Linked DNA regions of Homo sapiens. The protein of the gene in region 1 interacts with the protein of each later gene in a pairwise test. Each region holds a gene or a part of one and is shown in the gene's direction. Other genes may lie near its edges.

What was found.
Region 2: the proteins of RBM19 (region 1) and PTPN12 interact in a two-hybrid assay, tested with the Homo sapiens proteins (one large-scale study listed by BioGRID and IntAct).

The regions. Positions count from the first base shown.
Region 1 is NC_000012.12:113,938,773-113,942,591, reverse strand, and holds part of RBM19 (probable RNA-binding protein 19), read left to right. Parts: intron 1-157; coding exon 158-268; intron 269-2,431; coding exon 2,432-2,632; intron 2,633-3,819. UniProt on the Homo sapiens protein: Plays a role in embryo pre-implantation development.
Region 2 is NC_000007.14:77,634,508-77,638,326, forward strand, and holds part of PTPN12 (tyrosine-protein phosphatase non-receptor type 12), read left to right. Parts: intron 1-1,258; exon of another isoform or gene 1,259-1,274; coding exon 1,275-1,342; intron 1,343-2,510; coding exon 2,511-2,541; intron 2,542-3,819. UniProt on the Homo sapiens protein: Dephosphorylates a range of proteins, and thereby regulates cellular signaling cascades. Dephosphorylates cellular tyrosine kinases, such as ERBB2 and PTK2B/PYK2, and thereby regulates signaling via ERBB2 and PTK2B/PYK2.

The DNA.
Region 1 (3,819 bases):
CAGAGCCGTTGGGGGCATCTGATCAATGTAGGAAGGTGAGCGGCATCCGTGGAATCCATTTCCATCCCAGCCTCCTCTTCAGGCTGTTGGGAGATGGGAGGGCCAGCAAGTCACCTGGCCGACAGCCAACCAGAACTCTTCCTTTCCTCTTCCACAGGAGACCAAGGGCAGCGTGGCCGTGCGCGTGGCTCTGGGGGAAACCCAGCTCGTCCAGGAAGTGCGGCGTTTTCTCATAGACAACGGGGTCAGCCTGGATTCCTTCAGCCAGGTGGGTGTTCTCGGTGGCGCCAGCCAGCCAGCAGCCACTGGAGAGTCGAGAATGGCCTTTCCAGGGGAGATGCAGATGGATTTAAGGATCTGGCCTTCTAAGGACTATTACTGATTTCTAAATTGTCTCTAAAGAAAAGAAGAAATGTTACATGGGCTGAGACAAGTGGCCTATCTGACCCTGATTCTGTCTGTCCAGAGCCATGTACAAGAGGTCTGCCTACAACCCCACAGTTCCCCCACACAGATCGGCACCCCCAACATCTCACTCCCCTACCCAGTGGCTTCCCAGAGCATCTGTTATCTGTTCGGGGACTTTGACCCTTCTTGAACCTAGCAGGGAAGAGTCCAGCACCTCCATGTGCCTGTTCTCCAGCAAGTAGCAGGTCTTAGATTTATGGATGACTGCAGCTTAGAGGGCCCCTAAGACATCATGAGACCCCTTCATTTTACAATCTGGGATACCAACGCTCAGAGTGGGGAGGTGACTTACAAGGTCAAACAGTCTATATGTGAGAGGAGCCTGGACTAAAACTCAGGGCTTCTGACTCCCAAAACAGCCCTTTCAACAGCCTTCCCAGGCCTCACATTTTTACCTCAAGATGGATGAGGAGGATGGATGAATGAAGATGTATGGGGGATGGGTGGATGGATGGATGGATGGATGGATGGAGGATGAATATGGATGGTGGATGAATGGATGGCTTGATGGTTGGATGGATGGATGGATGGATGGATGGTGGATGAATACAGATGATGCATGGATGGATGGGTAGATAGATGGATAAAATAAATATACTAATAGCTAACATTTATTAAGACTTACCAAAGCACTCTTCTAAGTTTACATGTTTAATTAGCTCATTTCATTCACATGGCCACTCTGTGAAAGCAGCTCTACTGTGCTTCCACCCTACAGAAGGAACCACAGTCACAGAGGGGTGAAGTCACTTCACAGCTAGTCATGGTGGAGCTGAGTTTGAACACAGGCCTTCTGGCCCCAGAGTCTGTCTCTCTAACTGTAACACTGCGGCCTGAGTTGCACCTAAAAGGCCCACAGGTGCCCAGCCTTTCCCACCTGCAGATGGTTTTCACTCCCCTCACCTCACTCAATCCTCATAGTAACCTTGTGTGGCCTCTATAAGATGGGTGTGACTGTTAGCCCATTTTGCAGATGAGAAAAATTGAGGCCCACAGAAACAAGGTAATTGACCCAAGGTCTCAGGTTACATTAGCGGCTGAGCTAAGACTTATTCCCAGATAGGCCATATGCCTAGATTTTTCCATTATATTTTATTGGCTCTTTTATCCTCCTCCAACATTATTTTTTAATAAAATTATTGCTAACGTTTTCAGAGTGCTCATATTACATGTACTTTTACTAACCCATTTAATGAAAACTTTTCCTGGAGCGATCCTGTGAAATAAATGCTCTGTCCTTGCTGTCGCTGCGGGAGCTGAGGCACAGTTAAGTACATTTCTCAAGGCTGAATAGCTTAGTCTTTTAGTTTTGGTTCTCCCAGAAGCAGATTCTGAGACAAGGATTCAAGGGCAAACAGTTTTGGGGGCAGTGCAGAAAACTCTGGTGAGAAAGGGATGCAGGGAAGGGAAGGAGCCCAGGGTGCAGAGTGTGCTGCTGCAGTACGCTGCCCTGTGGCTGCCTGGAGCTCTGCCTAGGGGAAAGCCTGCAGCACTCATACCTCAGTCTCATCCCACCCAAGGACAAGGAGTGCAGCAACTCCTGAGAGCTGTGGGCTGCTCCCAGGGGGCGTTAGCTCTGCAGCACGTCCTGCTGGCTGCACGTGGTAGCAGGTGGGCGGTCTGTAGTTCAGGAAAAAAAGCCTTGGTACTGAGATGCAGACCCCAGCCACTGGAAGCCTTGGAAAGTGCGGCCCTGCTCAGGAGTGGAGGAGGGGCTGGGATTTGATCCAGAAGCTCCAGCTTCAGAGTCCCAGGCCTTACCCCCTCTGCAGAGCTGCCTTGCAGCCTTGCAGGGAGCATCATGCCAGAGAGGGTCGTTCCTCCTGGGTCTTCCTCCTAAGTGCCTGGTTGCTGAGGTTCCAAATGGAGAGCCTTGTCTGGAGAGCCCCACGATCCCTGCTGGTGTCAGCTGGGGACCCTCCTCCCTCCTGTGGTCCCATGTGTGTGCATTTCCTCTTTGCAGGCTGCAGCAGAGCGAAGCAAGACTGTGATTCTGGTCAAGAACCTCCCGGCAGGCACCCTGGCGGCCCAGCTGCAGGAGACCTTCGGCCATTTTGGCAGCCTGGGCCGCGTGCTGCTGCCAGAGGGCGGAATCACTGCCATCGTGGAGTTCCTGGAGCCCCTGGAGGCCCGCAAGGCCTTCAGGCATCTGGCCTATTCCAAGGTAGGGCTGCTGGAGACCCAGAATTGATCTGGAGAAGGACCAGTGAGGGCTGCTTCAAGGGAGAGGGTGCAGTGGGCTATGGATTCACAGATGTGGCACATGGGAGCTCACCCTAAACCGCCCGTCACGATCATGGCTGAATATCATCCCTGCCGCCTGAAAACCTGTCTGGATGGGAAGAATGGGAGACGGAAGTTCTTTTTTTTTTTTGAGACAGAGTCTTGCTCTGTCACCCAGGCTGGAGTGCAGTGGCGCGATCTCTGCTCACTGCAAGCTCCGCCTCCCGGGTTCACGCCATTCTCCTGCCTCAGCCTCCCAAGTAGCTGGGACTACAGGCACCCGCCACCCCGCCTGGCTAATTTTTTTATATTTTTGGTAGAGACGGGGTTTCACCGTGTTCACCAGGATGGTCTCGATCTCCTGACCTCGTGATCCGCCCGCCTCAGCCTCCCAAAGTGCTGGGATTACAGGCGTGAGCCACTGCGCCGGGCCGGGAGAAGGGAGTTCTGAACCATCCTCCAGAAAGCATGCCTTGGTTCCTTGCCTGACTCTAGCTTTTCTTTGGCTTTCTTTACCCATGTTAATTTGGATTAGCATTTTAATTTTAATTAAATGTGTTCATTATTTTTTTGAAAAAGTATTTATTTATTTTGAAAGACAGGGTCTCGCTCTGCCACCCAGGCTACAGTGCAGTGGCGCCATCTTGGTTCGCTGCAGCCTTGAACTCTGGGGCTCAAGCAATCCTCCCACCTCAGCCTCCCATGTAGCTGAGACTACAGGCATGCACCACCACGCCTGGCTAATTTTTTGATTTTTTGTAGAGACAAAGGTCTCCCTATTTTGCCCAAGAATGAGCATTCTTGATGCTTTTGTAATCCTGTAGCTACAATGAGATGAATGAAAGTCAGTTCTGTAGGTGGGGCTGTCTCCTGGTTCTTGGTTTAGAAAAAAGCCAACAGTTGTGTATTAGTTTGCTGGCTGTGGCTGTCATAACAAATTATTACAAGCTAGTTGGCTTGAAACAACAGAAATAGATCATCCCACGGTTCCGAAGGCCACAGTCTGAAATCAAGGTGTCAGCAGGGTTGTGCTTCCTCTGAAGGCTCTAGGGAGTCTGATCTGTGTCTCTTCCAGCTTCTGGTGGCTCCAGGCATCCCTGGCCCATGGCTGCATCACTCCAGTTTCTC
Region 2 (3,819 bases), on another chromosome or scaffold:
CGGCTCACTGCAAGCTCCACCTCTTGGGTTCATGCCATTCTCCTGCCTCAGCCTCCCATGTAGCTGGGACTACAGGTGCCTGCCACCACACCCGGCTTATTTTTTTGTATTTTTTTTAGTAGAGACAGGGTTTCACCGTGTTAGCCAGGATGGTCCATCTCCTGACCTCATGATCCGCCCACCTCAGCCTCTCAAAGTGCTGGGATTACAGGCATGAGCCACCACGCCCGGCTAATTTTTTTGTATTTTTTTAGTAGAGACAGGGTTTCACCATGTTAGCCAGGATGGTCTCCATCTCCTGACCTCGTGATCGCCCGCCTCAGCCTCCCAAAGTGCTGGGATTACAGGCGGGAGCCACCACGCCCGGCCTTGTTTTGTTTTATTTCGAGTTGGAGTTCCACTCTGTCACTCAGGCTGGAGTGCAGTGGCACGATCTGGGCTCAAGCTGTTCTCCTGCCTCAGCCTCCTGAGTAGCTGCGATTAGAGGCATACACCGTCACTCCCAACTAATTTTTTTATTAGAGATAGGGTCTCACCATGTTGGCCAGGCTGGTCTTGAACTCCTGACCTCAAGTGATCTGCCTGCCTCAGCCTCCCAAAGTGAATTTTGACTGATTTTAAGATAAATGTTAAAGAGCCAAGCACAATGGCTTATGCCTGTGATCCCAGCACTTTGGGAGACCAAGGCAGGTGGATCTCTGTTCCATTTGCCCTAGGAGTTTGAGACCAGCCTGGGCAACATGGCAAAACCCTGTCTGTATAAAATCAAAAATTAGCCAGGCGAGGTGGCATGCACCTATAGTCCCAGCTACTCAAGAAGCTGAGATGGGAAGATTGCCTGAGCCTGGGAGGTTGAGGCTCCAGTGAGCCGAGATCGCGCCTGGTCAACAGAGTGAGACCCTGTCTCAACAACAATTAAAAAGAATGTTGAAAGCAATGAAACGGTATACTTCAGTTGTCTAAGTCTGTCACGTTGTCTGTAGATTAAGCAGTATACTTCACTTGTCTGTCACATTATCTATAGACTGTAATACACTGATGACTGAATTTATTTACTTAGGTTTTGAAGGAAGGAAACAGAATGTTCTCGAATTAATAGAAACTACAATTTTTTTTTTTTAGAAACTTCAGAAATATGCTTACCCAGAAACTACAAAATTTTTGTGGAAGCGATAGTTTCTAAAATCTTTAGGATCTGTTTTTTGTATTACTTTAATGCAAAGAAATTTCAGAAATTCAAGGTGTTAATAACAATAAGATTTCATTTTTCTCAGATACACCTGTAAGATCGGAATGGAGTGAACTTCAAAGTCAGGAACGATCTGAACAAAAAAAGTCTGAAGTAAGTCCTTTTGGAATTGGAACAGTTATAGCTTAACATTTCTACTCTTTTGTTAACTAATCTTGCAGTTGTTGAAATAGCTGTCATCTTAAGATCGTTAAATATAGTTTGTAATTTTTGATCGGCATTTCTTATACTAAGATTTCAGATGAAAAGCCCATATAAAAGGTAGGTTCTGAAATTTTTTAAAAGGGTAACCTGATCTACATACAACTATCACTTTAAAGTATTGTTTTCTCAAGCTGTTTTTGAAATATGTAAATTATGCTTCAAATAATTTTGAAGGTATGAATGAAATAGGAGTTACTATTTTCAGGGTCCTAATTCTTTCTTACATTTCTAGATGCTTCCCATTATAACACTAGGCACATAGTCGCTTCTTTTGTTTTTTTCTGGCTACCTGGCATTTCTTTGACATTCGAGAAATGTTTTGGCAATTAAATATTTTGAGGGCGTGGCATGGTGGCTCATGTCTGTAATCACAGCACTTTGGGAGGCCAAGCAGAAGGATCACTTGAGCCCAGGAGTTCAAGACCATCCTGGGCAACATGGGGAGACCTTATCTCTACAAAAATTTTTAAAATTAGCCAGGCGTGGTGGCGCATGTCTATGGTCCCAGCTTTTTGGGAGGCTGAGATGGGAGGATTGCTTGGGCCCCAGAGGTCAAGGCTGCAGTGAGCCATGATCACACCACTGCACTCCAGCCTGAGTGACAGAGTGAGACCCTGTCTCAGCAACAACACATTTGTCCATAGGAGATAACATTTTTTATTAACATTAATACTTTTTGTATTTTCTCCCATACTTTAATATCTCTGAAATTTAGCTACATCTTATATTTGATTTTAAGACATGATGTAGTTTAATTGACATATAAAATACAATAATGATATAATTAGTAATAGTGGCTGGCAAAACACAGCTGTATGTTCCTTCATGCAGTAGCCCATGCTTTTCAGTGCTCATCCAGAAACATTTACTCCAAGGAGAAATAGCATAACATTTTAAAATTTTAAGCCTAATTAAAAAACAATTGTTTGCTTTTCCTCTGATGCTGAAAATGATAGGCCTTGATTTCTTGGGATATATACCCATAACAGACCCAGCTTTCTATTATTTGTATATAAAATGAATGTATTGTAATAGGTATTAAATGTCTTCCTCGTAGGGCTTGATAACCTCTGAAAATGAGAAATGTGGTAAGTTGTTAGATTTTTTTTTTCCTTTTTACTGTAGATTTTATTGATTAATTTCTACAAAATAACATGCTTCATAGTTCATGCTATATAGTTATTTCTGTATGTGAAAATGTCTAGGACAACTCTTGTAGAAGCTTAATATTGTACTATAATTCTTCCAAATTAATTATTACCACCAGATAGTAGTATTGATCTGGAAAATCATGGGAGCATTTACTATCAATAATTACAGGCTAATGGGAAAGAGATTTTTTAAAAATATTTTTCTGTTTTTTATTTTCTGTTTTTAAAAACACCTAGAAGTTAGATCCCGACTTAAATAAATGATGGAATTGCTTCTGTAGAAACCTATTGTTTTAGAAATCTTCCTTTTAGTACTTTTTCATTTATTTGTGAAGACCAATAAAATTGTGAAAGAATGAATGAATTTTAGTAGTTAACATCTTTTGTTACTAATCTTAAACACTGGTAATTAAAGAGTAAACTACAATCTAAACAACATAAAACTTTAAAAGTGGAGTTATTAGGCCTGGCGTGGTGGCTCACACCTATAATCCCAGCACTTTGGGAGACCCAGGCAGGCAATCACCTGAGGTCAGGAGTTCGAAACCAGCCTTGAGCAACATGGTGAAACCCCGTCTCTACTAAAAATAAAAAAAATAGCTAGGCGTCATGCCATCTGCCTGTAATCCCAGCTACTAGGGAGACTGAGGCAGGAGAATCCCTTGAACCCCGGAGGCAGAGGTTGCAGTGCGCCGAGATTGCGCCATTGCACTCCAACCCGGGCAACAAGAGGGAAACTCCGTCTCAAAAAAAAAAAAAAAAAAACAAGTAGAGTTATTATTTCAAGGTGCAAATAGTGCATTAATTAACCCTGACCTTGTTGATTTCTTAAAATTTTTTTTTTTTTTTTTTTTTTTTTTTTTGAGACAGAGGTCTTGCTCTGTCGCCCAGGCTGGAGTGCAGTGGCGCGATCTCGGCTCACTGCAAGCTCCACCTCCTGGGTTCACAACATTCTCCTGCCTCAGCCTCCTGAGTAGCTGGGACTACAGGCGCCCGCCACCACGCCTGGCTAATTTTTTTGTATTTTTAGTAGAGACGGGGTTTCACCATGTTAGCCAGGATGATCTCGATATCCTGACCTCATGATCGGCTCGCCTCGGCCTCCCAAAGTGCTGGGATTACAGGCATGAGCCACCGCGCCTGGCCTGACCTTGTTGATTTCTATACAAAGACATTTCAGTTGCAACTATTCCCTTAGAACATAGGCATATAGTA